Linked DNA regions of Homo sapiens. The protein of the gene in region 2 purifies or fractionates together with the protein of the main gene of each other region. This does not show direct contact. Each region holds a gene or a part of one and is shown on either strand. Other genes may lie near its edges.

The links.
Region 1: the proteins of DUSP26 (region 2) and NUP205 purify together in Homo sapiens (affinity purification with mass spectrometry, with the first as the bait; one large-scale study listed by BioGRID). This does not show direct contact.
Region 3: the proteins of DUSP26 (region 2) and PGM3 purify together in Homo sapiens (affinity purification with mass spectrometry, with the first as the bait; one large-scale study listed by BioGRID). This does not show direct contact.
Region 4: the proteins of DUSP26 (region 2) and ITPR3 purify together in Homo sapiens (affinity purification with mass spectrometry, with the first as the bait; one large-scale study listed by BioGRID). This does not show direct contact.
Region 5: the proteins of DUSP26 (region 2) and NUP133 purify together in Homo sapiens (affinity purification with mass spectrometry, with the first as the bait; one large-scale study listed by BioGRID). This does not show direct contact.
Region 6: the proteins of DUSP26 (region 2) and PRMT9 purify together in Homo sapiens (affinity purification with mass spectrometry, with the first as the bait; one large-scale study listed by BioGRID). This does not show direct contact.
Region 7: the proteins of DUSP26 (region 2) and ATG2B purify together in Homo sapiens (affinity purification with mass spectrometry, with the first as the bait; one large-scale study listed by BioGRID). This does not show direct contact.

Annotation. Positions count from the first base shown.
Region 1 is NC_000007.14:135,616,346-135,620,667, reverse strand, and holds part of NUP205 (nuclear pore complex protein Nup205), read right to left. Parts: intron 4,014-4,322; coding exon 3,942-4,013; intron 3,579-3,941; coding exon 3,421-3,578; intron 3,067-3,420; coding exon 2,986-3,066; intron 2,257-2,985; coding exon 2,065-2,256; intron 1,246-2,064; coding exon 978-1,245; intron 879-977; coding exon 780-878; intron 1-779. UniProt on the Homo sapiens protein: Plays a role in the nuclear pore complex (NPC) assembly and/or maintenance. May anchor NUP62 and other nucleoporins, but not NUP153 and TPR, to the NPC.
Region 2 is NC_000008.11:33,593,375-33,597,293, forward strand, and holds part of DUSP26 (dual specificity protein phosphatase 26), read right to left. Parts: intron 374-3,919; coding exon 159-373; intron 1-158. UniProt on the Homo sapiens protein: Inactivates MAPK1 and MAPK3 which leads to dephosphorylation of heat shock factor protein 4 and a reduction in its DNA-binding activity. Inhibits MAP kinase p38 by dephosphorylating it and inhibits p38-mediated apoptosis in anaplastic thyroid cancer cells.
Region 3 is NC_000006.12:83,172,341-83,176,662, forward strand, and holds part of PGM3 (phosphoacetylglucosamine mutase), read right to left. Parts: intron 3,721-4,322; coding exon 3,622-3,720; intron 2,148-3,621; coding exon 2,034-2,147; intron 1-2,033. UniProt on the Homo sapiens protein: Catalyzes the conversion of GlcNAc-6-P into GlcNAc-1-P during the synthesis of uridine diphosphate/UDP-GlcNAc, a sugar nucleotide critical to multiple glycosylation pathways including protein N- and O-glycosylation.
Region 4 is NC_000006.12:33,627,000-33,631,321, reverse strand, and holds part of ITPR3 (inositol 1,4,5-trisphosphate-gated calcium channel ITPR3), read right to left. Parts: intron 1,285-4,322; exon of another isoform or gene 938-1,284; intron 79-937; exon of another isoform or gene 1-78.
Region 5 is NC_000001.11:229,462,989-229,467,310, reverse strand, and holds part of NUP133 (nuclear pore complex protein Nup133), read left to right. Parts: intron 1-554; coding exon 555-677; intron 678-1,791; coding exon 1,792-1,891; intron 1,892-2,435; coding exon 2,436-2,687; intron 2,688-3,634; coding exon 3,635-3,768; intron 3,769-4,322. UniProt on the Homo sapiens protein: Involved in poly(A)+ RNA transport. Involved in nephrogenesis.
Region 6 is NC_000004.12:147,656,037-147,660,358, reverse strand, and holds part of PRMT9 (protein arginine N-methyltransferase 9), read left to right. Parts: intron 1-2,383; coding exon 2,384-2,567; intron 2,568-4,322. UniProt on the Homo sapiens protein: Arginine methyltransferase that can both catalyze the formation of omega-N monomethylarginine (MMA) and symmetrical dimethylarginine (sDMA). Specifically mediates the symmetrical dimethylation of SF3B2.
Region 7 is NC_000014.9:96,310,851-96,315,172, reverse strand, and holds part of ATG2B (autophagy-related protein 2 homolog B), read left to right. Parts: coding exon 1-19; intron 20-1,737; coding exon 1,738-1,844; intron 1,845-2,015; coding exon 2,016-2,108; intron 2,109-3,013; coding exon 3,014-3,084; intron 3,085-3,554; coding exon 3,555-3,631; intron 3,632-3,885; coding exon 3,886-4,056; intron 4,057-4,322. UniProt on the Homo sapiens protein: Lipid transfer protein required for both autophagosome formation and regulation of lipid droplet morphology and dispersion.

The DNA.
Region 1 (4,322 bases), on a different chromosome or scaffold from region 2:
AATATAGGCATATAAAAAAAGTTGATGTAGCATTTTTGTAATAAAAATTTAGAAACAATTGAAATGCCTGTGAATAAGGAAAATGGCAGATAAGTGTTTCATCCATATCATGGAATAACAAAGACTTTTGTGTTTCTTTTTGAGACAGAGTTTCACTCTTGTTGCCCAGGCTGGAGGGCAGTGGCGCAATCTGGGAAACCTCTGCCTCCTGGGTTCAAGCGATTCTCCTGCTTCAGCCTCCTGAGTAGCTGGGATTACAGATGCCTGCCACCATGGCTGCTAATTTTCTGATTTTTAGTAGAGATGGGGTTTCACCATATTGGCCAAGCTGGTCTCGAACTCCTGACCTCAGGTGATCCACAGGCCTCGGCCTCCCAAAGTGCTAGGATTACAGGCGTGAGCCACCATGCCAGGCCGAGATATTTTAAAAGAATCAACTAGATAAGTACTCTGATGTAGCACAAAGGAAAGAAAGACATTGGACCATTCTATGTAGAGCACACTGTTCAGTCGGACTTGAGGCAAGTGAGGGAGTTACAGAAGTATATAAAGCTAAAGTATTATTTGAAGGTTATCTTAAAAGTAGTACTCATGTACTACTTCATAATTCTTAAAAACTAAACATTCTTCCTCAACTTTTGAGTAAATGCTTTAAAAATGACACTAACACTCATTTTTTACAGTTGTGATTAGTCAAAAGATGGAGAAGTGATTTTTTTTTTCAATTTAAAGTAACCATCTCCCAATCCAGAAAAGATTAGGAATTGATCTCATTCTACCTGCTTCTAAGGTGTCTGGTTCATCAGGTCTCTGGGCAATCTGTAAGTAATAAAGCAGAGAGCCATACAAGTGAGTCCTCACTCGTTGGAATCCACCACCTAGGGAGATTAGGAAGATGTCAAATGAAAATCTTTTCTCAATTAAAGTTAAAACAAATACAAAAGATAGAATTTATAGACAATTTAAATGAAAAAAACCTGTCTTCAAAATGAAGTCTAACAGTTTCTTCAATATGATGTAAAGTGAAGAATCTCCAATAGAAGCAAAACCCACTAATGGGTTCTCTTCAGGAGGAGGTGAGGTGAAGCAACTATCAAGCATAAAAGCGTAATGGGCCTCTGCTGGTCCCAAGACTGATGTTTCCTTCTGTTCAGTGAGGACGGCCTGGCTTAGGTGAGCAGTCAGTGTGAACACTGCCCCGGCGACCACAGGCATTAACTCTTGCGCAGCTTCATCATCCAGTATCTTAAAGGACAAGGGCAAATTAGAGTGAGAATCCTGCTTTCAGCTATAATCATTAACAAATTTCATAGCTTTTTTTTTTTGAAGACAGGGTCTCGCTCTGTCACCGAGGCTGGAGTGCAGTAGCATAATCTCAGCTCACTTCAGCCTTGACCTCCTGGGCTCAGGAGGTCTTCCCACCTCAGCCTCCCGCAACTGTGACTACAGGTGCACACCATCATGCTCGTAGAGATGGAATCTCACTATGTTGCCCAGGTTGGTCTCAAACTCCTGGGCTCCAGTGATCCTCCCACCTTGGCCTCTCAAAGTTCTGGGATTGCAGGCATGAATCACTGCACACAGCCCATTAACAAGTTTTATATACATTTAGCTTGTCAACTATGGTAACAATATAAGAATGGAATACAGAAATTAGTCAAGAAAGAAAGAAAGAAAGAAAGGAATCTAATATATACAGAGAAATTTAAACATGATGCTAGGTAATGGGTGTTCTTAACCAGAAGGGATTCCTATCAGAATTCCCTAGGGAGGTTTTCTTTTTGAAATTCACATAAATGGTCTCACCACTACATTCAGTAGGTCTGGGGTGGGCTCTGTCCATGTGAATTTTTACAAAGCTCCCGAGATAACTCAGACACACACTCTGGTTGAGAGCCACTACTGTACAGAATTAATCCCTTTCTCAAGGAAAGTCTTAACGTTGGTATTGCACAATTCTATTTTACTCCCAATCGAAAATGGAAAACAATTAGGATGCCAAAATATATTTGTTTAAATGATACATTCGTTCAGCAGTATAAAGTATTTTAGGAAGTACGTCACCTTATCATGCACATCTTGTAAAATATCACGAATAATCAGTTGTCGATCCTCTGCCTGAATGAGGTCCTGGGGACAAGCTGTCAGTATAATTTCTACTAGTTGCCTCCACGACTCCAGAGCATGACGTTTTGCATGAAGACACTGCAGCAATTTATTTCTTCCTACCACATACTGAAGTACAGTGCTGATTTCCTAAAGCCACAGGAATTGAATCACAAGGTTAAACAGGCAAATAAGATCAGTTATCTGTCAGTTACTCAGAAAATATTTATTTGGAAACCTACTACATGCATGCCAGGAAGCAGGTATCTTTTCATATTATTTCAGTAGCCAGGGCTATAAAAAATATTAACATATAAGGTGTGTATGTGTGTGTATGTGCATGAAAGGTAGGGGACAGAAGTGGCATAGATAAATATGTATTTTTTGACACCATCTTCTTTCTCCTTGTACCTGTCTACTTATACTTGCTTACTCTAGAGCACTAGAATTATCTAAACTCCAAGTTCAATGGCATGTTTCTCTGACATCTCTTTTATTTCTTTGCCTCTTGCTTTGGCCTGGCCGGCTGTATCTCCATTCATGTGGTTCTTCCCACCTGACCTCTTATCTGTAACTTTCCACTTGTGATGACAAATGACCCTCCTCTCTCACTGATGGGGACCAAGTGAAGTCTAATACGAAATATGGTCAGGTTGCAAATCCTTAACTAGCCTAGCAGAAAAGGTGTTATTTATTTTGGCATACCAGATAGTTCAGTTTATAAAAGTTATAAAATCAAAAGTGAAAGACTCCCTAAATGTTTAATTTTTAGGCAGCTTACTAATTAGCAAACTACATGTCAATATACTATTTTAGTCTTTTCACCAGCAACCTAAGTAGTTAGAAGTTTGAAACGAACACATACTCAATAGAGCTTACCTCCATTAGTAGAGGTCTCTGTCCTATGGCTGCCATACCCTGAAGGGCATTTACTTCAGCTACAAGAACCCTATGAAGAAGCTGGATAATTAGGAAAAGAAAGAAAAATAAGACATTTCAGACACTGGTAGAACAGTAACACCTAGCAATTACCATAAACTGCCCTAAAGGGAAAGGTGTCAGATACCTTTATATATAATCTAACAGGAGCACTGTCCAATTTCCAGACCAAAATATTAAGTATCCCTTTTCAAGAAGTTAGGTGATATATTAAGTTTTATTTCAGGGATATTTTACAAAAATCACAGTCCTTCCTATAAACTACTAAACCAATGTCTCTATCAGAAAGAAAACCTATATGGTTCTATTTGTTTCTGATGACTTAAAGTCTGAGCCACTTGACACTGCAGATATGTACTTTAAAGCAATCCTCACCTTGACATTGCAGACTGTCTGTCCCCGTAAATTCTTGTGTTCACAGTTAGCAATAACTTGTTCAATCTGGGCCCGATCAAAAAAATCCAACTGCAAAGGCTCAGGGATCTCCTGACTGAAGTCAATCGAGTCAAGAATATTTAGAATTTTTCGACGTACTAGAAATAATAAAAAGTAATTTGATTTTACTTGGGACATTGAAAAGAAAGGCAAGCCATCATATTCAGTTGATTTTCAAAGACAGTGCTATTTTCAGAAAGAGCATAAAATAGTCAAGAAACTGAAAACTGTATTGGAATCTAAATTTGATTTTATTTCTGATACATCCATTAACAAAAATATTTTCTTTCCTTTTGTATAATCCTATTATAAAAAAAATTTTCAGGTGGCAATTAATCCTTTATATAACTTTTCTATACCAGTTCAGAGTTTGGAGGCACAGGCATAATAATCCCTTGAAGTTTTTTTTTTTTTAATATATGTCTATAAAATAAATTTATTACAAATTCAAAGGGCATTACCTTTTGTAGCAGTGTCAAAGTGAAGGAACCCAGAAACAGACCTGTTTTCATCTTCTATTCCTCCTTCACCATCTGTTGGAATATCAATAATATTGAATCAGAAAAAGAAGAACATACTCTTAAAACTATTTATTTGGAAATAACAAACACAAGGTATCTTATTTCTAGGTCATTGTTTCTACATCAAAGAGCCCTGTGCAAATGGATAATTAAAATGTAAAGATTGATGAGGATTTACTACCAACATTAATCTAATTATTTCTGTCCCTATGGAATCCACTGCACAATTGTAAAGAGAATAATCAGATTCTCAAAAATGGCAAGACCCAATCATGCCAATGAGATGATTTTAAAAGTTTATGCTTAATTTGCATGAATAAT
Region 2 (3,919 bases):
TTGCTTTAAAAAAATGGTTGAGATAATATTTTTTTCTTTCTTAACAAGATCCTGAGCATTTTGTCATGTCACTAAAATCTCACTCCACTCTCAGACCCTTGGACTTCCCCAAATTCCAGGCACCCTGTTCTTTCCTGCTCCCAGCATTCCCCTCCTACCTCCTGGCTGGCTCAGCGCCCGGTGGATGAAGTCGGCAGCCGTCTGGAAGTGGATGCTCATGTCAAAGGCTGGCGAGTCGTGGGCCTCAACACCCAGGTAGCGGATGCCCAGCCCCTCATAGGCCTCGGGCGTGCCTCGCCACCGGCTGTGTGAGGCATTGAGGACGTGCGTGATGCCCAGGCGGCGAAGCTCCCGGCGGTTGTTAGCCATGTCCCTGCATTGAGTAGAGGTTAGAGGAAGGGTGGGAAAGCCAGGTTGTTGGGGAAGACTCCCTTGTCTACACCCTGTTAACTTCCTGAATCCTATTGTTGATTTTTTTTTGAGATGGAGTCTCGCTCTGTTTCCTAGGCCAGAGTGCTCACTGCCACCTCCATCTCCTGGGTTCAAACGATTCTCCTGCCTCAGCCTCCCGGGTAGCTGGGATTACAGGCACATGCCACTATACCCGGATAATTTTTGTATCTTTAGTAGAGATGGGGTTTTATCATGTTGGCCAGGCTGGTCTTGAACTCCTGACCTCAAGTTATCCTCCCGCCTCGGCCTTCCAAAGTGCTGGGATGACAGACGTGAGCTACCATGCCTGGCCTCCTGGATCCTACTATTGGCCTAAGGACACTACTTTACTTACTAGTGATCCAGAAGGGAGGAACCAAGATGGGCAATGACTTGGAGTCTTGTCCTGTGAGCCATGGTTGAAGGTATAGGGGATGTTTTGCCTGGAGAAGAGAAGACTAAGGGGATGGGGTAAAAATAGCCATAATAAAACTGAAAGTGTGCGGCCGGGCGCGGTGGCTCACGCCTGTAATCCCAGCACTTTGGGAGGCCGAGGCGGGCGGATCACGAGGTCAGGAGATCAAGACCATCATAGCTAACATGGTGAAACCCCATCTCTACTAAAAATAGAAAAAATTAGCTGGGTGTGGTGGTAGGCGCCTGTAGTCCCAGCTACTCAGGAGGCTGAGGCAGGAGAATGGCCTGAACCTGGGAGGCGGAGCTTGCAGTGAGCCGAGATCGCACCACTGCACTCCAGCCTGGGTGACAGAGCAAGACTCCATCTCAAAAAAAACAAAACAAAACAAAACAAAACTGAAAGTGTGTTTTCTGGAATTGAGATTGTCTTGGATCTGTAGGGTTCTCAAGGGTACAATGAGGATCAAGGAATTAAAGCCCCAGGGAAGCAGATTTCATTTTTTTTTTTTTTGGGAGGTGGGACAGAGTCTTGCTATGTCTCCCAGGCTGAAGTGCAATGGTGCAATCTCAGCTCACTGCAACCTCTGCCTCCCAGGTTCAAGCGAATCTCCTGCCTCAGCCTCCTGAGTAGCTGGGATTACAGGTGCCTGCCACCATGCCCGGCTAATTTTTGTATTTTTAGTAGAGATGGGATTTCATCGTGTTGGCCAAGCTGGTCTCGAACTCCTGACCTTGTGATCCACCTATCTAGGCCTCCCAAAGTGCTGGGATTATAGGCGTGAGCCACTGTGCCTGGCCAGCTGATTTCAATTTCATACAAGGAAGTACATTCTAATGGTGGAGTCTAGCTGAGGAAAGGGTGGAGAACCTCGAGAGAGAGTGGTTTTCCTGTCCCTGGGGTATTCAGGCAGAAAGAGGAGATGGCCATGTAGCCATGGATGCTGCAGAGGGGAAATGAATGTCAGGCAGATTGTTCTGCTCATTTCATCGGTCCTGCTCACTCTGAGATAGTATGGTTCTGACATCCACTTCCACACCTAACTCCCCTATGTCTCTACTCTTGTTGACACCCAGAACCGTCTTGTGTTTTTGCCAGATATTCCATGGCTCACATTTACTGTGACTGTGTTTTTTTTTGTTGTTGTTGTTGTTGTTTGTTTTTTTTTTTGAGATGGTGTCTTGCTCTGTCACCTAGGCTGGAGTGCTAGAGTGCAGTGGCGCGATCTCGGCTCACTGCCACCTCTGCCTCCCGGGTTCAAGCAATTCTCTGCCTCAGCCTCCCGAGTAGCTGGGATTACAGGTGCCCACCACCATGCCAGGCTAATATTTGTATTTTTAGTAGAGACGGGGTTTCACTATCTTGGCCAGGCTGGTCTTGAACTCCTGACCTCGTGATCCATCCGCCTAAGTATCCCAAAGTGCTGGGATTACAGATGTGAGCCACCATGCCCGGCCACATTTACCCTGTTTTATGACGTCACCTTCAGGTGTTCATCCGGCCCAGACCCCTCAGCTTGGTGGCAGACACCCCTGGGCACCACAGTCATATCTCAGGGCAAACTGAGTTGCCCTGTCCAGTGCAAACTCCTTAAGCAGAAAGAGCACTGAACTTGAGCCTCCAAGCCCGGGCTCTGCTACTTACAACCCGTGTGACCTTGGCCAGGCACAACTTCTCTGAGCTTCAGTCTCCTCATCTGTAACCCAGGGAGAGTGATACCTATCTCACAGGGCTGTTGTGAAGATTAAGAGAGATAATGTGTGTGAAAAAAATCCTTGTAGGCCAGGCACGGTGGCTCATGCTTGTAATCCCAGCACTTTGGGAGGCTGAAGCAGGTGGATCACTTGAGGCCAGGAGTTCAAAATCAGCCTGGCCAACATGGCTAGACGCCGTCTCTACTAAAAATACAAAAATCAGCTGTGTGTGGTGATGGGCGTCTGTAAGCCCAGCTACTTGGGAGGCAGAGGCAGGAGAATTGCTTGAACCCGGGAGGCGGAGTTTGCTGTGAGCTGAGATTGGGCTACTGCACTCCAGCCTGGGCAACAGTGAGACCCTGTCTCAAAAACAACAACAATGCTGGGCACGGTGGCTCACACCTATAATCCTAGCACTTTGAGAGGCCGAGACAGGTGGACTGCCTGAGCTCAGGAGCTCAAGACCAGCCTGGGCAACACGGTGAAACCCCGTCTCTACTAAAATACAAAAAAATAATTAGCCGGGCAAGGCGGTGTGTGCCTGTAGTCCCAGCTACTCTGGAGGCTGAGGCAGGAGAATCGCTTGAACCCGGGAGGTGGAGGTTGCAGAGAACCAAGATCGCGCCACTGCACTCCAGCCTGGGTGACAGAGTGATACTGTCTCCAAAAAAAAATAAAAGAAAGAAACCAAAACCAAAACAAACCAAAGAAGCAAAAGAAATCCTTGTATAACTTTGAGGGAGAGAAGTGGGGATGGCTCTTCCTTTGATGTTTTTCTCTCCATAGCCTTCAAATTGCAGAATCTCTGTAGGCACTGCCGCTTTGCTTGGTCTCAAGAGAAACCACTGCAGCTTCCTACCTACTGCTCCTGGCTTCCAGTGGCTGCCTTTTCCCAGAGACATTGCACAATAGATGGAAGGTCAGAGAAGTCATCTATTGTGCCTGGTATGTAGCACTGGCATGTAATAATAAATATGTGATACATGAATGATATTATTACTGGAACAGAGTCTTTCTGTCCAGACTTGGGTATTTTTATTTTATTTATTTTATTTTAAAATAATAAGTAGAGATGGGGTCTGGTTTTGTTGCTCAGGCTGGTCTAGAACTCCTGTACTCTAGATACTCCTGCCTCAGCCTTTCAAACTGCTGGGATCACAGGCAAGAGACACTGTGACTGGCCAGAGTTGGGCATTTCAATAATCCTGGCCAAACTCTCCCAAACCTGCAGCCTCTACTCTTGGCCCATGTGCCCTATCCCCTCAATCTTCAACCAGGAACCAATGACACCACTGCATACCTGTCTGCCACCCTTCTCCTTTCTTACACACACAAACACACACACGCTCTACCGTGGGCCCAGTCTGCCCGATACATA
Region 3 (4,322 bases), on a different chromosome or scaffold from region 2:
GCAGTGTGCTGTGATAATGCCTGTGAACAGCCAATGCACTCCAGCCTGGGCAACATAGCAAGACCTTGTCTCTTAATAAAAAACAAATGCACTCCTGACCTCACTGTCAGGAATTTGAAACCAGCCTGGCCAACATGGTAAAACGCCATCTATACTAAAAATACAAAAATTAGCTAGGTGTGGTAGTGGGCGCCTGTAATCCCATCTACTCGGGAGGCTGAGGCAGGAGAATTGCTTGAGCCCGGGAGGCAGAGGTTGCAGTGAGCCAAGATTGCGCCACTGCACTCCAGCGTGGGCAACAGAGCGAGACTCCATCTCAAAACAAAACAACAACAACAACAAAAAAAACCCACTAAAGGCAGGCCCGCAGTTCATTCAGCATCCCCAAGGGAAAAAGACCCTCTCAGCCTCCTTCAGCTATGATACATCGTTTCCATGCATGCCAGATATGTATCATATTTTTTACTATTAAAATACTTGTGTGTGAATAAGTGTAAAAAAATGATTGATTGCTTATTGATTGATAGCATATAAATTCAGAGTTTTAGGAATGATGGTGATGCCAGACAACCACAGATTGTCCAACGGGTGGCTGACAGAGTGACACCTTTGCTTTCTGATGGTTCAGTAGACACAAACTTTGTTTCATGCACTAAATTTACAGTATTCTATAAAACCACCTTTAATCTTATGTAACATACATGAAACAAAAGAATTTAGTGTTTCCGACTTGAGTGCCATACCCAAGATGTCACATTATATATATGCAAATATCCCAAAATCCAGTGAATCTGGAACCCAAAACACTTCTAGTCCCATGCATTTTGGATAAGGGATACTCAGCCTATATCATGTGCTTTCTCACATGCAGCATGATTAAATGAAGTGTTTTTGTGGATGGATAAAATACGAACAATGAGGTGAAGATCTCTGTGGAAGACAATGAAAGGTATAACAAAGAATACTGAAACTAGCTCTTGAGAAACTTGCCTTTAGTACTCCTTATTTATAAAATGAAATTAGACTGGATAACTCTAAGGCTCAGCCTAACATTCCATCACTCATTTTTCTTTTTATAAATAGATCCCTTTTGAGATATTACCCCACAATGATTGATAGAAAGCATCAAGGTAAAATGGAGAAATATGAGCTTTGGTATAAGATATAACTGAAGATAAATCTCTGTTTCTTCACTTATAAAATGGAAATTACAGTAACACCTCTCCCTGTGTTACTGTAAGGATTACACAGCAAGGTATATAAAGTGTCCAGTGTGTGCAAGACACTCAAATAATTGAATCGCTTTCCTCTACCCTGAGTACTGCTTTTCCATAGCCAAACGACACTCCAACCCCAACTAACCCACATGTATGTCCTTTGTCAATGAGACAACCAGTTATTTGTGTTTGTTTTTGAGACAGAGTCTCGCTCTGTCACCCAGGCTGGAGTGCAGTGGCGTGATCTTGGCTCACTGCAAGCTCTGCCTCCCGGGTTCACACCATGCTCCTGCCTCAGCCTCCCGAGTAGCTGGGACTACAGGTGCCCGCCACCATGCCCGGCTAATTTTTTGTATTTTTAGTAGAGACGAGGTTTCACCCTGTTAGCCAGGAGGGTCTCGATCTCCTGACCTCGTGATCCGCCCTCCTTGGCCTCCCAAAGGGCTGGGATTACAGGCATGAGCCACCGTGCCTGGCCTGACAACCAGTTATTTTTACTTAATTTCATCGAGGTTTGGTTAAAAAAAAATTAATAATATATATGTATACACTGAGTAGCTGAATCTGTGATCCTAGGTAGAAGCTACCCAATATACTTGAAAATTTCCATCATAAGAGGTAGGGGAAGGGAAGCATATTAAAAAATGTTCTGTCATTCCATTTCATTATAAATCTCAACTGAATATACCACTATTAGAAGGAAGCCACCAGGCCAGGACGTCTCCACTTTAATTTTGTATGCACCCACACTCTGTTCTGTCCATCTTCTGAATAATGTAAAGGTAACCAAGAGTCCACTGCCCCATCAGTTCTGACCTGGTTAAACAAGTCAATAATGTTTTCAAGCATCTTAGCAGCTTTTCTTTTCTTATCTTCCAGTTGTTCTGCTGATTGTTTTATCTTCATTTCAACAGCTGTACTAAACAGTGCCTGCAGCAAAAGAATATAAAATCAGTCTCAAAACACTATCCAAAACCTAGTCATAAGTACTATTATTCTAGCTAACCCACTTTTCCCTCCTAGTCAATCTGGAGAAACTGAGGGGAAAAATAGTGGCAGCCTTAAAATGTATGAAATTAATGTAAGATCACATTAAAACCCAGAGGATAGTACTAGGGGAAAAATTTTATTTGCGGATTATATAACTGGTTATAAAAATTTAAACATCTGATTACAAAGAAAACACCACCTTGACAAGAGGCAAGCACACACAGTAAGTTCATGTTTTCCCTTTAACCAGCTAAATCATTTCTGTGCAACCAGGTTACTTAGAGCCTGTCTGTATCCTTTTTACTTTGAAGGATATAATTCATTGCAGCTAGTATAGTTTTATTCTAAAACTTAAGGGGATGAGCTAGGCAAAATTAAGAGTTCATAGTATTCATCAAAATATGGCAAATAATGTCATGGATAGTCATTACAATATATAATTCATCATGCTCCTCAAGAGTCTTATCTCATTTGGAAATACTCATCTTTTTTACTGCCTTCTAGAGGCCTAATACTGAGCAAGATTAGCATACTATGCTCAACTACTTGATGAAATACATTTTTCTTGATAAAATAAGGCACAGGCTAGTCACCTGTTTTTGTAAAGTTTTACTGGAACACAACCACACAGATTCATTTAAGCTAGATCAGCAGAGTTAAACAACTGTAAGAGACCTTATGGCCTGAAAATCCAAAAATATTTACTCTCTACCCTTTAGAAAATAATTTACCAACTTCTCCATTCGATCACTAAAGTTATATCTTAATTGCATTTTGTAGGAACTTATTTTTCCCCTTTTTATATTTATGCCCTCCAAAAGCCAATTTTAAATTAATGAGGAAAATTATTTGGCTTTGATTCAAATGTTCTGATAGCCACCTCAAGTGTATTCATTAAATGAGGTGAGTATAAAAACATTTTAAAAATATTCTGAACATTATGAATCTACAAAAAACTAAATTATACACTTTAAAATGTAATTTTATGTAAAATGTAAATTGAAACATTTTATGCCTATCACTAGTTACCTTAAATTCATTTTCATTTCTTATTAATTATCAACTTTCCAACACTTTGCAATTCACCATAGCGACTGAATTTTTCTTTTCCTCTCCTATGGCCAGCCGGAAAATGCATAGACAACATACTTATAAAAAAATTAAGAACTGTAAATTTTAAAAAACTATTCAAAACACCTTAGTATATCTCTTCACATTCAAAGAAGAATCATTACCATGTAAAAGAGAATCACAGTTTCATAATACATCAATATATAAGATAACCAAAGGATCTTTTTGTCACATCCAATTATTTCAACAAAGTACAATATTACCTATTATTACCTCCCAGATATAGAAGTCTCATCATAAAGAAAAGTGCCAGCTAAGGCCAACTATAATTAAGAGAACTTACAGTGCCATGCCCATTTGCTTCAAAATAAACTCCAATGTCAAACTCTTGAGCCTTGTGGTGCAAATGTTTTACACCAGTCTTAGTGCAATAGACAGGTACCTATAACACATGCATTTAAAGAAATACAGCAATTACTCAGATGTCAAATGTTTCTTGCATACCTAGTATCCCAGAGATACAAAGGGGAACAAAATACTGGGGCCGAGTCCAGTGAGGAAGACGATTAAGCATTAAAATACAAAATGGTACGTATACAATGGAAGCATGAACACACTCTGGAAGCACGCAGCCAAGGGTAAAGCACGGTGAGAGAGATGAGGGTCTCCTTATAAGACACGAAAGATTACAAGTGGGGGCGTGACATGACCTAACTGTTTTAGAAAGCTGTTTAGCTACAGTGTGGAGAATAGCTTAGAGCAGAATTGCAAGCTTTTTCTGTAACAGGCCAGACAGTAAATATTTTAGGCTTTGCAGGCCATATGGTCTCTGTCACAATTACTCTGCCATTACAGTGCAAAAGCAGCCACAGACCATACATAAACAAATCAACATAGCTCTATTCCAATAAAACTTTGTTTGCAAATAGCAGCAAGTTCAATTAGAAGGTTAAGAAATGGAATGAGGAGGCTTCTAGGACTAATCCCAGTAAGAAATAGTGGCTGGATCAGCAATAGTGAATAGGGAAAGTCATGGATGGATGG
Region 4 (4,322 bases), on a different chromosome or scaffold from region 2:
ACCCCAGCCGTTCAGGGCCACTACTGGTCTCCGCGTCTTGATGGTAGTGGTCACCCCGGCCCAGGTGTTTTTTCTTTATCTCTTTGTCTTGTGCTTTTATTTATTACAATCTCTCATCTCCGCACATGGGGAGAACACCCACTAAGCCCCGTAGGGCTAGACCCTACAACTGGCCACCACTCCACAGATGCAGGCCAGCCCCAAGGAGGCCACTCCAACAGCAGGCACTGTCAGAACACTGGGATGGGCTGGTGGTGGGTGGGAAGCCTGGGGGGCCCTTTCTCCAGATAGCCAAAGTCACACCTACTAGGCGGAATGTTAAGAGAGAAACCCAGATTCACTGGTTGGGGCTCCTGGCTCATCAGAGAAAAGAAATTAACTCCTGCATCCCTGCAAAAGCAACCATTTCCTTTACCTCTACATATCTTTACCAAGAATCCACCCTGTGCCAACCAACGGGGGGCCAGACAGTATATGGAATATATAGAATTTTAAAACAAGTACAGCTAAAGCCTTCAGAAAGCTTAAAGTCTAGAAAGGACAATAAGCCGCACACGCAGAGAACCCAAATAGTCTCTCCAGGAAGAATGGAGATAGCAAGAACAACTAAACTTGGCCCAGTAGAAATAAAGGTCGGGGCCAGTGTGCCACCCTGCCTCTGCCACAGGCCTGGGTTTCTGGCTGTCAGGGTCAGGCGGGCTGTCTGACAAGTCCTGGGGTCTCTACAGCGGTGCTGGGTGCATGGGAGGACATATCTGTAAGGCCAAGGAGAAGAAAGACAGGGAGCAGGAGACCAAAGGGAAAGCTGGGAAGAGAGGGAGAAAAGGTGCAACCATGGGCCGCCAGCCAGCCCTTGCCTCATATATTTGGCCTGCCAGCCCCAGGCTTGTCTCCCACTCTCCATAACCCAGAACTGGACTCTCTCAGTCTTTCTCACTTGACAGAGTAACTGAGGCTGTAGGACCCTCAGCAGGGCAGACCCTCAGGCCAACTCGCCCTGGCTCCAAACCTCCGCAGAGCTCTCTGGGAAACAAAGCAACAAAGGCAGCCCTGACAAATCAATCCAGAAAGTGAAGCAGCCTACACCACAACCCCGCCTTGCCAGAAACTCAGTGTTCATGGTGGAAAAGGAGATGAGGGCGGGGCGCTGTTTTAGATTAAAGGAAACTGAAGAGGCATAAGAAAATGTAACACGAGTACCTTGACAGGATCTCGATGGTTTTTCTTTTTTTTTGACGGAGTCTCACTCTGTTGCCAGGCTGGAGTGCAGTGGCACGATCTCAGCTCACTGCAACCCCCACCTCCCGGGTTCAAGTGATTCTCCTGCCTCAGCCTCCCGAGTAGCTGGGACCACAGGCATGTGCCACGATGCCCAGCTAATTCTTGTATTTTTAGTAGAGACGGAGTTTCACCACGTTGGCCAGGATGGTCTTGATCTCTTGACCTCGTGATCCGCCTGCCTCAGCCTCCCAAAGAGCTGGGATTACAGGCATGAGCCACTGCGCCTGGCCTAGGATCCTGATTTAAAGAAACCAATGGTCAGGCCCGGCGTGGTGGCTCACGCCTGTAATCCCAACACTTTGGGAGGCTGAGGCGGGCAGATCACCTGAGGTTAGGAGTTCAAGACCAGCCTGCCCAACATGGTGAAACCCGTCTCTACTAAAAATACAAAAATTAGCTGGGCGTGGTGGCTGGCACTGGTAATCCCAGCTACTCTGGAGGCTGAGGCAGGAGAATCACTCGAACCCGGGAGGCAGAGGCTGCAGTGAGCCGAGATTGCACCATTGCACTCTAGCCTGGGCTACAAGAGGGAAACTCCATCTCAAAAAAAAAAAAAAAGAAACCAATGGTCGGTCAAACACAGACAACCTGGGCCCAGTGGCTGTAATCCCAGCACTTTGGGAGGCCAAGACAGGAGGATTGCTTGAGCTCAGGAGTTCGAGGTTACAGTGAACTCTGATCACACCACTGAGGACAATGGGCACATCTGACTATGGATTGGGCCCTGAATGCTATTAGGAAACTATTAATTGGTGTGATCACAACACTGTAGTTACATAGGGATGTATAATAAAATATTTAGAGGTGAAAAAGATGCAATGTATGTAATTTATCATAAAATACTTCAGCAAAAAATACAAATATCAAATGTGACCACTGTAAACAATGATTAAGTCTAGGTGGTAAGCAAATTGGTGTTCTAAATGCTTCCCACTACTTTTCCTGAATTGTATTTATGCCTCAGGCTGTGAGAGCATAGGTAAAGGCCAGGGCCACCCAATGTAAGTGATCTGTAAAGTCTACCCACTGCCATCATCATCATCATCTTTGAGACACAGACTTAATTTTCCCTCCCATTACCTATATCACCCCCATCATCTATTTCTAGACTCATACTGGAGAAGAGGGCTCTCCTGCACTGTGCAGGAAGGGCTAATGGCTGGCTGGCTGGCGGGCTGGCTGGCTGAGCGATGGGGAGAGCAATTTGCTAACCAAATATGCACAGGTGTCTGCCTCAAGCACCTGCAGCTGCTCCTGGACTGAGATTTGTGTTGACAGCCCCTTCCGGCTCTGCCCACCTGCTGACCAAAAAAACATAGCACTCTGGCCATTTTACTCCCTCACTGAAGCCTCTGCAATGAGTCTCTCCTGACTGTCTCCCCAAGTGGAAATCCCTCTGTAATGTGGCATGTGGCTCCACCCAGTTCCATCCCCAGCCCACACCCTGGACTCACTGTGTTGTGAACGCCCAGCCTCATTTCTGCACCCACGATTTCTCTCACAGTCCCTAGCCTGAAAGGCCCTACAAACTTCTCTTCTCAGTCCCCTGCTGCGTGACCCCAAGCTCTCCAAGCCAGGTGTCCTGACTGCAGGGAATTGTGACTGCAGGTACAAATGCTGGGTGTCACTGGCACCTTTCGCATGACCAGCCTGACATACCCAGGGGGCTCAGAGCTCACATTCAGAGGCCTGTGATGAACTTAGTAGAGATCTGCGTTCTGCTTTCCTCCTTCCCCCACCCCAGGTTTCTTCCCTTCCACTCACACAGCCCTCACTCCCAGAGAGGGGTGTCCCAGCCCCACATGGGGTGAAGTCTAGAGAGCAGGGCTGGGGGTGGACATGCAGGGACTCCAGGCATGTGTGCAGAGGTCATCCAAACCCAGAAACCTCCCCCTAAGCTGAAAACAGAAAGCTGGTGTGGCCCCACCCTAAAACTCAGCATGTGTCCCCACCCCCAACCCAAGCCACCGCCCCAGTGGGCCAAGCTAGGGAGGGGATATGGGGTCAGGAATGTAGGGCAGGGCAGAGTGTAATCAAGTGGCTCCAGCAGGATTCTTTCAGGCCGGCAGGATTCAGGCCGAGCAGTTGGATGCAGCCTGAGACCCTGGAGTCTCAAGGTGGATGTGTGGCACTGGTTCTAGGCTGAGCCAACCCCGCGCCACCCCCTCTCCACTTCATCCCTTCTCCATCACATCCTCGCACTGCCTGGGAAGTGCCTAGTACCTAACCTTGAGGGCAGAGGCTGGTCTTACTCCCCACATGCTAGTGCAACACTCACACATGACATGAATCATGTCTGACCCTCTGTGGCACCAAGTTCTGTTCCTATACCCCTCCACCACCACAGAAACACAAAAAGTTAGACAGCCTAAGAGTTAAAGGTGTACCTTGTCTTTGATCTCCATTTCTGGGAACGTATTACCTGAGAGGATAACTATAACTAGACAAGTGTTCAGGCATGCATGCACTAGGATGTTCAGGGCAAATTGTTCTTAACAGCAAAAATTTACAAAGAGCCTGAATGTTGAATACTAGAGTTGCTTAAATAAATTAAGGTACAGCATACCATGGCTGTGCAGCCATAACAATGGTGTGTTGGCATGGGAAAATACAGCTCACTATATATATGCAAAAAAGGACAGGGTACAAAGCCATACGTGCAGTTTGATATTGTTTGTAAATGTTCATTTATGAATATAAAAGGCTAGAAGGTCATAGGGAATGTTCATGTAAGCCATAGTGGTATTACAGATCATTTTTTTGAGTTTTTCACATTTTCTCCATGGAATGTATATTTTTTTTTAATCTGAAAAAATATATATATTTTCAAAAAATGAGTTGCATGGATTAGGCTAAGACCAAGAATCTGCCTTGAGGTACAGAACAGAAGTCTAACATCTTCTTCCAATGAAATCACAATTAAATGAAAGCCAAGCCGGGTACAGTGGCTCATGCCTGTAATCCCAGCACTTTGGGAAGCCGAGGCAGGCAGATCACCTGAGGTCAGCAGTTCAAGACCAGCTTGACCAACATGGAGAAAC
Region 5 (4,322 bases), on a different chromosome or scaffold from region 2:
GTTTCAGTGCCTGATGGTATTTTTGCACTGTTATCTCCATGTATTAATTAATGACAAAGGAAGAGTTAGAAGTTATGTATTTAGTTCATTCTCTTATGTTGCTTACTTCTGTTCTACAAATGTTTCTGTTATGTCTGAAGAAGGGGAATTCCTCAAAGAAAGAAATTAGCAAGTTCACTTTTTGAGGTCATTATTTTAGTCTATTAGTTCATTAGTTTGGGGTATTACATTGTAAAGTGATGTCATCTGTAACCTAGTGCTATTTAAAGATGCACTGAGCAGAGTAGCTATAATAAAAAATATCATCGCTTAAAAATCTCAGTAACAATCCAGAATTTGCCTGTTTATAAGACTTATTTGGGCACTCTGACTTTTAAAAGTTAGGAGATGTGACTTTTCTTGATTTTTGAATTTATTTTTACCATCAACTGCCAATAAATTTTCCTCCATCTATAGGTCTGAGGATATGGCTTAATGAGTAAAACTCACTGGGTAGTTGTTACCCATCACCATAATTTTTGTTGTAAGTAGTTTACTTCTGTGTATTCTCTCAGGTATCCCAAGTAGATACCATCTGTGAGTGCTTACTGGAGCATGAGGAGCAAGTCTTGAGGGATGCACCTATGGATTCCATTGAATGGGCTGAAGTGGTGATCAATGTGAACAATATTCTCAAGGTACAAAAATATAGTAAAGGCTTCAGCAAATCAAAGCCCAGGGCATGGATAGACAAGGAACTGGTTTCCATGTTCCTACTCTGTATTGCCGATAATGTATAAGGTTGTAGACATTTGTTAATCCCAAAAAAGTTAGAAAAATGTCATTTTATTATTAATCAGCTAATGAGTATTTTGAATGTTAGCCTGGTGCCTATTAATAAATTTCTATAATCTTGAGTTTCTATTTGGTAGAATAATAAACCTTTCATTTGGGAAGATGTGTTTGTATCTTTGCAATTTTTTAGTTGGTTTTTTTTCTGAGAGAAGGTCTCACTGTCACCCAAGCTGGAGTGCAGTGGCACCATCATAGCTCACTGTAACCTTGAACTCTGGGCTCACGACTTCCTCCTGCCTCAACCTCCAAGAGTGTTGGGATTACAGAACTGAGACACCATGCCTGATTGCAAACGTATTGTTAATGTAACTGTCTAAATATTTCTCATTTCTATTTTTTTAATTACTCAAAACCTTGCTACTTTTACTATTGACTAAAACGTTCCATTTAATTTTAGCTAGTGGACTTGTAGTAATGATTTTCCTACTTTGCCAAATAATTTTCCTACTATTATTTGCCAAAACTGAAGTTAAATTATGGAGTAAAACAAATTTCAAAAGCAGAAAGAACCAAAAAGTAATCATGCAGATCTGTGCTGACTTTTTTCTCTCATTTTCTTTTCTTTTCTTTTTTTTTTTTTTTTTGTGAGACATGGTCTCACTCCATTGCCCAGGCTGGGTTTATAGTGGCTTGATTATAGCTCACTGCAGCCTCCACCTCCTGGGCTCAAGCAGTCCTCCTGCCTCAGTCTCCCAAGTAGCTGGGACGGTAGGTGCACGCCACGATGCCCAGGTAATTTTAAAAATTTTTTGTACAGATGGGGTCTCACTATGTTGTCAGGCTAGGAGCAATCCTCCTACCTCAGCCTCCCAAAGCACTGGGATTACAGGTGTGAGCCAACATTCCTGGCCCCTGAGTATTTTTTCTTACTAATTTACTTTGCTGTCTTAAATTATCTTCAGAAATACTGTGATCCATCACCTTTTGCATGTGATAACACATTAACTTTTTTTCCAGGATATGCTGCAGGCTGCTAGTCATTATCGCCAAAATAGAAACTCTTTGTATAGAAGAGAAGAATCACTAGAAAAAGAACCTGAATATGTTCCATGGACGGGTAATATACTGATTTATTAACAGTTGTTCAAAATATATTTCTAATGACCCATCATTTTTAGAAGTTGTGTTATTCCCCTAGCGTAGGTTTGTAAGTGAAATGAAAAAGTGCCGTCTCCAAAATGAGCAGCTCTTGTCAAAATCACTTTATTCGTCCCTTGCTCTTATTTATCGATCTCTCTATAATTTATGTATTCAACTGGTACTTATGCATTTACTAGGTTTTAGTTCAAATAGTTATTCATAGAAGCAGTCCTGGCCCCGGAGGTATGGACTATATTTTATGTTGATTTAATACAAGAAAGTAAGTGGAGTAGCATTAAAGGAATTTAGAAGGAAGAAGAGTCATGTTTACCTGGCTTTGCTGAGGAAATCTCCTTGGAGAAGATGGGATTCAAGCAGGGCATTGACAGGTATCACCTGAATCCCTGTTCAATGTAATTTTCCAGCAGTGATGAAGAGGCATAATTTTTATGCTATTAGTCTTTCCTTTAGCCATCACTAGATCCCTTACTTTAACCATATTATTTTGTGTAATTTCACAGCAACAAGTGGTCCTGGTGGCATCCGAACGGTAATAATACGCCAGCATGAGATTGTCCTGAAGGTGGCTTATCCACAGGCAGACAGCAACCTCCGAAACATCGTGACCGAGCAGCTGGTAGCCCTGATCGATTGCTTCCTGGATGGTTATGTTTCTCAGCTTAAGTCTGTGGATAAATCCAGTAATCGGGAAAGATATGACAATCTGGAGATGGAATACCTACAGAAAAGATCAGATCTCTTATCTCCTCTTCGTAAGTTCATGATACTTGGCAAGAGTTTTAAATTTGCTGAATGGATGAAAGGGTTGAATAGTTAATTCAGTATATTCAGTGTGGTAGTGTTAATCCAACTGTAATAAAGAACTTAAAGCAAATATGCACAGCTTTCTGTGCTCATTTATTCAACTTTTTTTCCAGTACTATCTAGGTATAAGTACCATAGATGATACTGAAGACAATTAATAAATACATAAACAAACAACATGTGGAGACTACCCTTAAAGAGCTTAGCATCACAGACCTTTACGTGAATAACTGGATTGCAAAGTAGAGCCTGGTGAGGGCTGCTTGAGGGGTACAGATAAGATATTATGGCTGTTTGGCAAAGGACACATTATACTCCAGGCTAGGACTGGGAAGAGTTTGCTTTACTCTTACATGAAGGAAGAGAATAGCGTTTTGGGGAGGCAGTGATGAAACAAGGGTCTGAATTTGCATCTTTTTTTTTTGTTGAGACAGAGCGTCACTCTCTCGCCCAGGCTGTAGTGCAGTGGTATAATCTCAGCTCACTGCAACCTCCATCTCCCGGGTTCAAACAATTCTCCTGCCTCAGCCTCCCAGGTAGCTGGGATTACAGGCGTGTGCCACCACAACTGGCTAATTTTGTATTTTTGGTAGGGATGGGGTTTCACCATATTGGCCTGGCGGGACTCGAACTCCTGACCTCAGGTGATCCACCCGCCTCAGCCTCCCAAAGTGCTGGGATTACAGGTGTGAGCCACCGCACCTGGCCTGAATTTGCATCTTTAAGAAATTGATGTGAATTGTGAAACTAAGTGCCAGTAAGTGGGAAGGTTTCCATTCCATTAATGATTGTTGGTTTATAATAGGAATAAAGATAAAATTTCAAGTAACATTTTTTATTACAGATTTTAAGTTTTGCTAACAGGATTTTTTCCCATCTTTTCTCATTCCCACAGTTTCACTAGGCCAGTACCTGTGGGCTGCTTCTCTAGCAGAGAAATACTGTGACTTTGATATATTGGTACAAATGTGTGAGCAGACTGACAACCAGAGCCGACTCCAGCGCTACATGACCCAGTTTGCTGATCAGGTGATGAGTGTTGGGTGTGTGGCCACTGAGTCCTTTAGTTGCCTTTTCTTGAAATGGCTTTGCCATTTCAAATCTGTAATCAGGGCTTTTGGAATATGATACGATCTTTTTGTAGTTAACTTTGATGAGAAGATACTAATTTGTATGTCGCGTTTCTTTGTAAATTTTGTCCAGTAGCGAGATCACAGTTCACGACAGCCTCAACCTCCTGGGTCCAATCACTTCTCCCACCTCACCCCCTCCCACACCTCCTGCTTTCCAGTAGATGGGACCACAGGAGCTCGCCACCATGCCTGGCTAATTTTGTTCATTTTTCAGTAGAGACAAAGTCTCGCTATGTTGTCCAGGCTGGTCTCAAACTCCTGGGCTCAAGCGATCCTCCTGCTTCAGCCTCCCAAAGTGCTGGGATAACAGGCATGAGCCATCGCCTGACCACACAATTCTTTATATATAAATATTACTGAAAGATTCTTTGACCTTTGGAAAATATAACTTTCATTTCTGTTTATATATTTTCTAGTTATTATAAAAGTACTTAGGTACATGAATATTGG
Region 6 (4,322 bases), on a different chromosome or scaffold from region 2:
CTGTGCCAGCCTGCTTATTTAAATACAGAGAAAACCCCTCCTAAGATTGTTGGGAATATATAGGGTGCCAGGTGCTTTCACTTGTGTTCTTAGGCAGCTCTTATGACATACTGCCATACAATTATAATTATCCTTGTGTTACACAGATGAGGAAATTGTTGCTCACATTAAATAATTTCCCCCCAAGTTATTCAATATGTGAATACAGGGGCAGGAATTCTAACCTAGGTCTTTCTGACTTATCTCTATATCATGCTGCCATTTCAAATTAACAAAATGAACAATAATCCAAATCTCTAGGTTGTATGTGCATTATGGTGACCAGCCTTCATGGTTTGTCCAGGACTGAAGGGGGTTCCAAGACTTGAGACTTTCTATTTTGAAACTAAGACATTCCTAGGAAAAGCAAGAGAAGCTTATCACTCTAGTGTGTGTGTTAGTGAATGGCGTGAGGATGTTCTGTATAAAGAAAGTGCCCAGCCAGGCGAGGTGGCTCATGCCTGTCCTCCCAGCACTTTGGGAGGCCGAGGCAGGTGGATTACCTGAGGTCAGGAGTTCAGGACCAGCCTAGCCAACATGGTGAAACCCTGTCTCTACTAAAAAAATACAAAAAATTAGCTGGGTGTGGTGGCGGGTGCCTCTAATCCCAGCTACTTGGGAGGCTGAGATAGGAGAATTGCTTGAACCCAGGAGGCGGAGTTTGCATGAGCCAAAATTGCGCCATTGCACCCCAGCCTGAGCAACAAGAGCGAAACTCCGTCTCAGAAAAAAAAAAAAAAGAAAAGAAAGTGCCCAAAGAAATTGGAAAGGTTACATAGAATTCTCTAAAGATCTTTAATAGGTAAGGTTAAATGTTCAAGTACATAAATGTTGTAAGTGAAACCTGTTTGGAGATAGAAGACTCTGTGAGGGTAATTTTAGCCTAAGATTTTTTTTTCTTTTTTTTCTTTTTTTTTTGAGACAGAGTTTCCCTCTTGTTGCCTAGGCTGGAGTGCAGTGGTGCGATCTTGGCTCACTGCAGCCTCCACTTTTCGGGTTCAAGTGATTCTCCTGCTTCAGCCTCCCGAGTAGCTGGGATTACAGGCACCCACCACCATGAGCGGCTAATTTTTGTATTTTTAGTAGAGATGGTGTTTCACCATGTTGGCCAGGCTGGTCTCGAACTCTTTTTTTTTTTTTTGAGGTGGACTCTCACTCTGTCGCCCAGGCTGGAGTGCAGTGGCGTGATCTCGGCTCACTGCAAGCTCCACCTTCCGGGTTCACGCCATTCTCCTGCCTCAGCCTCCCGAGTAGCTGGGACTACAGGTGCCCGCCACCATGCCCGACTACTTTTTTGTATTTTTAGTAGAGACGGGGTTTCACCGTGTTAGCCAGGATGGTCTCAATCTCCTGGCCTCGTGATCCGTCCGCCTTGGCCTCCCAAAGTGCTGGGATTACAGGTGTGAGCAACCGTGCCCGGCCCCAAACTCTTGACCTCAATGATCCACCCACCTTGGCCTCCTAAAGTGCTGGGATTACAGGCGTGAGCCACCATGCCCAGCTAGCCTAAGATTTTTATAATTTAATAGAAGCTTTCCTTTATTATTTGTTACCACATTGTTCTTGAGGAGATCTGGAACTAATTTAACAATTTGGCCTTGCTTACTGAGGCTGAGCTTTCTGAGCTTCAAGAGCATTCCTTACCTGTTACGACTTTCAATAGCAAGTAACACGTTTGTAGCTGCCATTTACCCCCGAACTATCCTTTTATTATTTTAAGGCTTTTTAAAATTTTAATTTTTCTTAGCCACACACAAATCTTACTAAGGTTTTAATTTCAAAAGTCATGCCTGCCTGTTTAAGACTTTCAAGCAATACAGGATAGAAAGGAAAAAGTCCTAGTATTTTTCTTCCTTTTTAAAATCTCAACCCTTTCCCCAGGTCACTAGTTTGAAGTACATCTTTCCAGACTTTCTTTTCTGTACACACACACACATACACACTCACTCTCTCTCTTTCTCACTCTCTCTCTTAAACACATGCTCTCTCTCACTACTCCCTCTCTCTCTCTACCCCCCTCCATCCCCCTCTATTTTCTAAACAAAACAATCTCCACTGCTTTGTCACTTAACCTTTTCAATTCAACAATATATTATGGACTTCTTTCCATATCAGCAATATATATCTGCTTCATTCTTTTTAATAATAGCTGCATGGTATTCCAATAAAATAGGTCAGAGCTTCCCAACCAGTGGGCCTTACATGGTTATAGGTGTGCCAAGATACTGAATCCCTAAGGGAGCTGGGCAGGACTAAGAACTCCAGAGATGGAAAATGGTAAGATACTGAGGCAAGTATATATGAAATATATAAAACCGTTTCATTCCTTCTACATTTTTCTCAGGAATTAAAAAGTCTTGCAACTAAAAAGCCTGATAAGATTGGTATTCCTGTTATTAAAGAAGGCATACTAGATGCTATTATGGTTTGGTTTGTGCTCCAGCTTGATGATGAACATAGTTTATCCACAAGTCCTAGTGAGGAAACATGTTGGGAACAGGCTGTCTACCCCGTACAGGACCTTGCAGGTAGGTCTTGTCCATTTTTTTTTTTAACCTCTTGCTTTAATCTTCTAAGTATTCAAGTCAGTGGCAAAAAAAAAATTACTTTGGATATGAAGGTTTCAGTCAAAGGAGGTTGGTTAAATCTTTCAGAACTTCATTTTTTTTCAAAAGAAATTTGAAATAGGTAATATTTGTGGTTAAGAGAGACAAACACAACTCTGTTGCATAGCATTTGAAAAACCTATCATTATTTCTTCAGCTCTGATTTTTCTTTTTTCTTTTTTTTTTTTTAACGACAGAGTCTCGCTCTTTTGCCCAGGCCGATTGCAGTGGCTTGATCTCGGCTCACTGCAAGCTCCGCCTCCCGGGTTCACGCCATTCTCCTGCCTCAGCCTTCCGAGTAGCTGAGACTACAGGCGCCCGCTGCTGCGCCTGGCTACTTTTTTGTATTTTTAGTATAGACCGAGTTTCACCGTGTTAGCCAGGATGGTCTCGATCTTCTGACCTCGTGATCCACCCACCTCGGCCTCCCAAAGTGCTGGGATTACGGGCGTGAGCCACTGCGCCCGGCCGATTTTTCTAGTTATCAGTAGATGAAAGAAATCCTGCTCCATTATTTCATGGAAAGTACTGGAAAAGTATTGCTTTTAGTGCAGGAGTTCTTACTCCTTAGAGAAGCCGATAACGTCTGTGGAGCCCTGCATCATAAAAATGTACACACTCATATAAGCACAAAATTTTTCAGTTTTAGAGAGTTCATGAATCTGAACTTCCCTAGGGAAGTTCTGTATAAAGATTTTTTTTTTGTATGGAAATTTTTTTTACAGTGATTCGATGGGTTTCAGTAAGTTTAAAGTAGTTGAATTATATAGAAAAACTACCCTTTTTAGGCTGGGTATGGTGGCTGACACCTGTAACCCTAGTACTTTGGGAGGCCCAGGTGGGAGGATTGCTTGAGGCCAGGAGTTTAAACCAGCCTGGGCAACATAGCAAGACCTCATTTCTTTTTTTCTTTCTTTCTTTTTTTTTTTTTTTTTTTTTTTTGAGACAGAGTCTCGCTCTGTTGCCCAGGCTGGAGTGCAGTGGCGCAATCTCAGCTCACTGCAACCTCCGCCTCTTGGGTTCAAGTGATTCTCCTGCCTCAGTCTCTTGAGTATATGGGACTACAGGTGCATGCCACCACGCCCAGCTAATTTTTTGTATTTTTAGTAGAGACATGGTTTCACTGTGTTAGCCAGGATGGTCTCGATCTCCTGACCTCTTGATCCATCCACTTCAGCCTCCCAAAGTGCTGGCATTACAGGTGTGAGCCACCGTGCCCGGCTGCAAGACCTCATTTCTACAAAATGAAAAAATTTAGCTGGGGATGGTGGCAAGTGCTTGTAGTCCCAGCTACTTGGGGCACTGAGGAAGAAGGATCGCTTGAGTCCAGGAGGCTGAGCCTGCAGTGAGCCAAGATTATAACACTGCACTCCAGCCTGGGCAACAGAGGGACATCCTGACACACACACACACGCACACACACAGAAAAACTCTACCCTTCTTAAACTGGAAGTTAATACATCTATTTCTGTTTAGTTTCTTAATCAAGGATCTAATTTGGCAAGGTCATAAAGGCCTGGAATCAGTATATTGTTGTAGCCAGTATGTTGTTTTTGGAGTTAGGTAGATTTGGATTCAGTTCTTGTCTCTGCTACTTACTCATTCCTTCCTGGCCATCCTTGCCACTTGTTTCTCAGAGCTTTTGTTGTATCATATATAAAAACGGGATGATACCAT
Region 7 (4,322 bases), on a different chromosome or scaffold from region 2:
GCTTAGCTGGCATGAGCAGGTAAGAGAGCTGTTATATATGTATTAATTTATTTAAAAATTTGTGTTGACATCTAATACACATACTGAAAAGTTTGTAAGTCATAAATGTTCAGCTCAGTGAATTATCATTAAGTGAATACTACGGTGTCACCACCTTTTAGGTTAAGAAATAGAACAGTATTGGCCGGGCACGGTGGCTCATGCCTGTAATCCCAGCACTTTGGGAAGCCAAGGCAGGTGGATCACCTGAGGTCAGGAGTTCGAGCCCAGCTTGGTCAATCCCGTCTCTACTAAAAATACAAAAATTAGCTGGGCGTGGTGGAATGCACCTGTAATCCCAGCTACTGGAGAGGCTGAGGCAGGAGAATCGCTTGAACCCGGGAGGCGGAGGTTGCAGTGAGCTGAGATCGTGCCACTGCACTCCAGTCTGGCGACAAGAGCGAAGCTCTGTCTCAAAAAACAAAACAAAACAAAACAAAACAAAACAAAACAAAACAAAACAGTATTATCACCTCAGAATGTAATTGGTTTTTTACCTTAAAGTGTGGTCCTCAAAACCTCTCAATGACAGAGTTATCTTATATGTCATTAAAGGAAGGGAAGGGACTCTGTATCCCAGGACTTGTAGAATGTCTGGCGTAGAGGAGCAGTGAATGGTGTGTTGAATTGCTTTTATAATCAGAAGTTCTTTAAGTGCAATATTTCCATATAATTCCCTAGGCCAATAATATGATGTTGCTTTAAAGCATTTTATCAGGATTTCTCTCATTAATTTCCAGTTCAACAACTTTTTATGGTAATAAAATACAATTGGTTATTTTTCAGAGGAGACTTTGAGTAAGAAGTTAGCTTTTCCTTATGTGAGAATGAAAACTAGTGCACTATGATTGCTTCTCATGTTTCTTATAAAGGAGAACTTCTTAATTGTGCTGGGAAAATAATACATTATTTAAAAACTTGAGTGTTTTCAAAATTCTTTTCTCATGAAAGCATTTAGGAAACATGAGAATATCTGTCTGACTTTCTATCTGGTAGGAGTAGAGAAGTGGTTAGGGTGAATAACCAGCTGGAAGGGAGACATTTAGCAGAACCTCCTTATTTGTTTGGATTAGAAATATGAAAGAATAGATGTTGGTGAGAGGGACTGGTTTTTAGACTGAGCTAGGTATACATTAAGGAAAAAGAGCTTCCTTCAACAATGACTTATATGAAAAACCAATCGCCCCTGCACACAATGAGTTATATAAGAAGCCAGATTGATAGTTTTAAGCAGTCTTTAGCAAAATTTATTTTTTCTGAGAATTGTTCCAAGCCAAAAAATATGAAATTATATTATGCATACATTGTTATTAATTTCATAAGGTGTGATTTTCTAAGATTTCTGTAGCATTGGAGTTGTTGGATAGGCTTCTGCATTTCAAATTCTAATTTTGCAAATACTTTTAAAAAATTTATTTTTATTATATATAAGGTGAATAACATGTCTTGATATGCATAGTAAAATGCCTATTGTAGTCAAACGAACACATCCATCAGTATCCATTACCTTCTTTTCTGATGCAAGTACTTTTTGAAACTAATTCCTTCAAAATGATGATTTTTTTCCTTTTACCGTTATGATTTTCCAATTAAATGATTTTTTCTGTGAGATATTCTGGTTTACATTGGTATTAAGGATATTATATGAAACCTTTTTTTTCTTCTAAAGCAGGGCGTTTTAATTTTTTGTGATTATAGATTTTATACTTCTTGAATATTGCTGATGAACCTGTTTTGGGATATAATCCTCCAACTTCATTTACAACTTTTCATGTTCATCTTTGGAGCTGTGCACTTGATTATAGGTAAGTTCACAAATGGAACAAAATAAAGTTTTATTTAAAATGCTACTAAATTTTGAAAAAAATACATAATTCAGTAGAGTTAAGGTTCAAATTGTTGTTGTTGTTGTTGTTTTTAATAGAGTTTCTGGAGCCGTATCAAACTGATGTTCTTTTGTTTCTCTTTGGCATTAGACCCCTTTATTTGCCAATCCGATCTCTTCTTACCGTGGAAACATTCAGTGTTTCCAGTAGCGTTGCATTGGATAAATCTTCCTCTACTCTCAGGTACCTGTGTAAACTTCATTGTATACTAAACAAAGCTGTTCGAAACATACCAATTGATATTTACCTAAACCATTTTATTAAAGTCTCAATTTTTTGTTAAACGTTCTTTTACTAATAGTTATAACCTTTTACCCAAATTACCCAATTTTTCTCAGGTGACATGTTTCATCTACCCATTTATTATTGCATTTCATTTTTAGGGAAGAAATTAATTCTGGAGATTCTTTAAAAAGTTTGCATTTTAAAACATATGGTAAACTTCCCATGCTACCTGATACACTTTATACTTTTTATTTAATTTTTTTATTTTTTAGAGACAGGGTCTTGCTCTGTGTGGCCCAGGCTGGAATGCAGTGGCATGATCACAGCTTATTACAGCTTTCAACTCCTGAGCCCAAGTGATCTTTTGCCCTCACCCTACTGAGTAGCTAGGACTATAGACGTGTGCCTCTATCCCTGGCTGATTAAAAAAAAAGTTTTGTTTTTGTAGAGAAGGGGTCTTGCTGTGTTGCCCAGGCTAGTTGAGAACTCCTGGCCTCAGGTGGTCCTCCTGCCTTGTCCTCCCAAACGGCTGGGATTACAGGTGTGAGCCACTACATCTGGCCCACTCTATCTTTATACTATAGTTTAAACCTTGTGAATTTGGGCATCTCTTTAAAAACTGCCAAAAATTTAGAATTAATTTGAGTAGATGATTTAATCTAATTCTTTACACCATTTAAATATTCCTAGCATTCATAAACAGTTTTTAAAAAATGTTAGATGACAGTTATAAGTTAGAAACTGCTTATGATTTCAACAATGTTCATACCAGAAAGAATGATGCAATTAAGCATATAGTGATTATGGGGTATGATACTCAAAGCTTAGTTTTTCAGATGTTGGTTTTATCTTTCTTGCCTCAGAATAATCTTGGATGAAGCTGCTTTACATCTATCTGACAAATGCAATACTGTCACTATAAATCTGAGTAGAGGTAAGAGTTAAAAAACAAATGGAGTAGATAAATTCTGCTTTATTTTTGTGCGTAAATAATTTTAAAGCATTTTAACTCTGGGATAATGCTAGTGAACTAAGAATCTTATTAAAGATCCTTAAAGATTAAAGGGTCTTTAAGTATATAGTGATCATGTGGTATATATTCACAGCTTCATTTTTCAGATACTGGTTTTTCAGTTTGAAATTGTAATGTTCTTATAATGCTAGTTAAGTACATCAAATTACTATATATACTACAAATTTTTATTTAAGATAATTTTTGTTTCTAACAAAAAATAAAGTGAATTTTAGGACTTCTATGGGATGAAACTATTTTCATTGCATTATAATTATTTGTAGTGCTCTCTGCAATGAATTTTAAAGGAATGCTAGTTGTATTGGGTGTTGGTTGGATACACATTTTTGAAAGCTGTACTGAAGAGATTTTCTTAATTTTAAAAATTTTAGATTATGTTCGTGTGATGGATATGGGGCTTTTGGAGTTAACCATAACTGCAGTGAAGTCTGATTCTGATGGAGAGCAAGTGAGTTATTAAAATAAATGAAAATTTTAAGTTCTATTTTTTAAGAGATTAAAAAAATTGAGTTTAACATTTTTCCGTGTACCTAATTTTGGTCAGAAATAGAGTAAGTATATTAAAAATGGATTTATTTAAATACTTTTTTTATGTAGCGAGACAGATTATCATGAATCTTATTTAATGTAAATCTATGCAAAAAAAGAAACTTTTGTCTCATTTGGAAAACATTTTCATCCCTTTTTCTGTGTCTTGTCCAGACTGAGCCCCGCTTTGAGTTACACTGTTCCAGCGATGTTGTCCATATCAGAACGTGCTCAGACTCTTGTGCTGCGTTAATGAATCTCATTCAGTACATTGCAAGCTATGGTGACTTGCAGACACCTAACAAGGCAGATATGAAGCCTGGAGCCTTTCAAAGAAGGTCTAAGGTACAGTCAGCAATGTGATTCCTCCAGTCCCTGCCATGTCGTGACATGTTTACATTATTGAGGTCTTCATGACAGTCATAAGGTAGAAAAGAAACTTTGAAAGTCATTCATCTGTTCTTTACCTTCAGAATAATGGGGTCTGAAACGGTGGTTTCATGGGCCTTTTTGGAAAACCATTCTGCTGTTTTGATATTCTTTGTTTCCATTAATCTTCCTAGCAAACATCATACTTTTTTTTTTCTAGACTTGTTATTTTCATCTGTCCT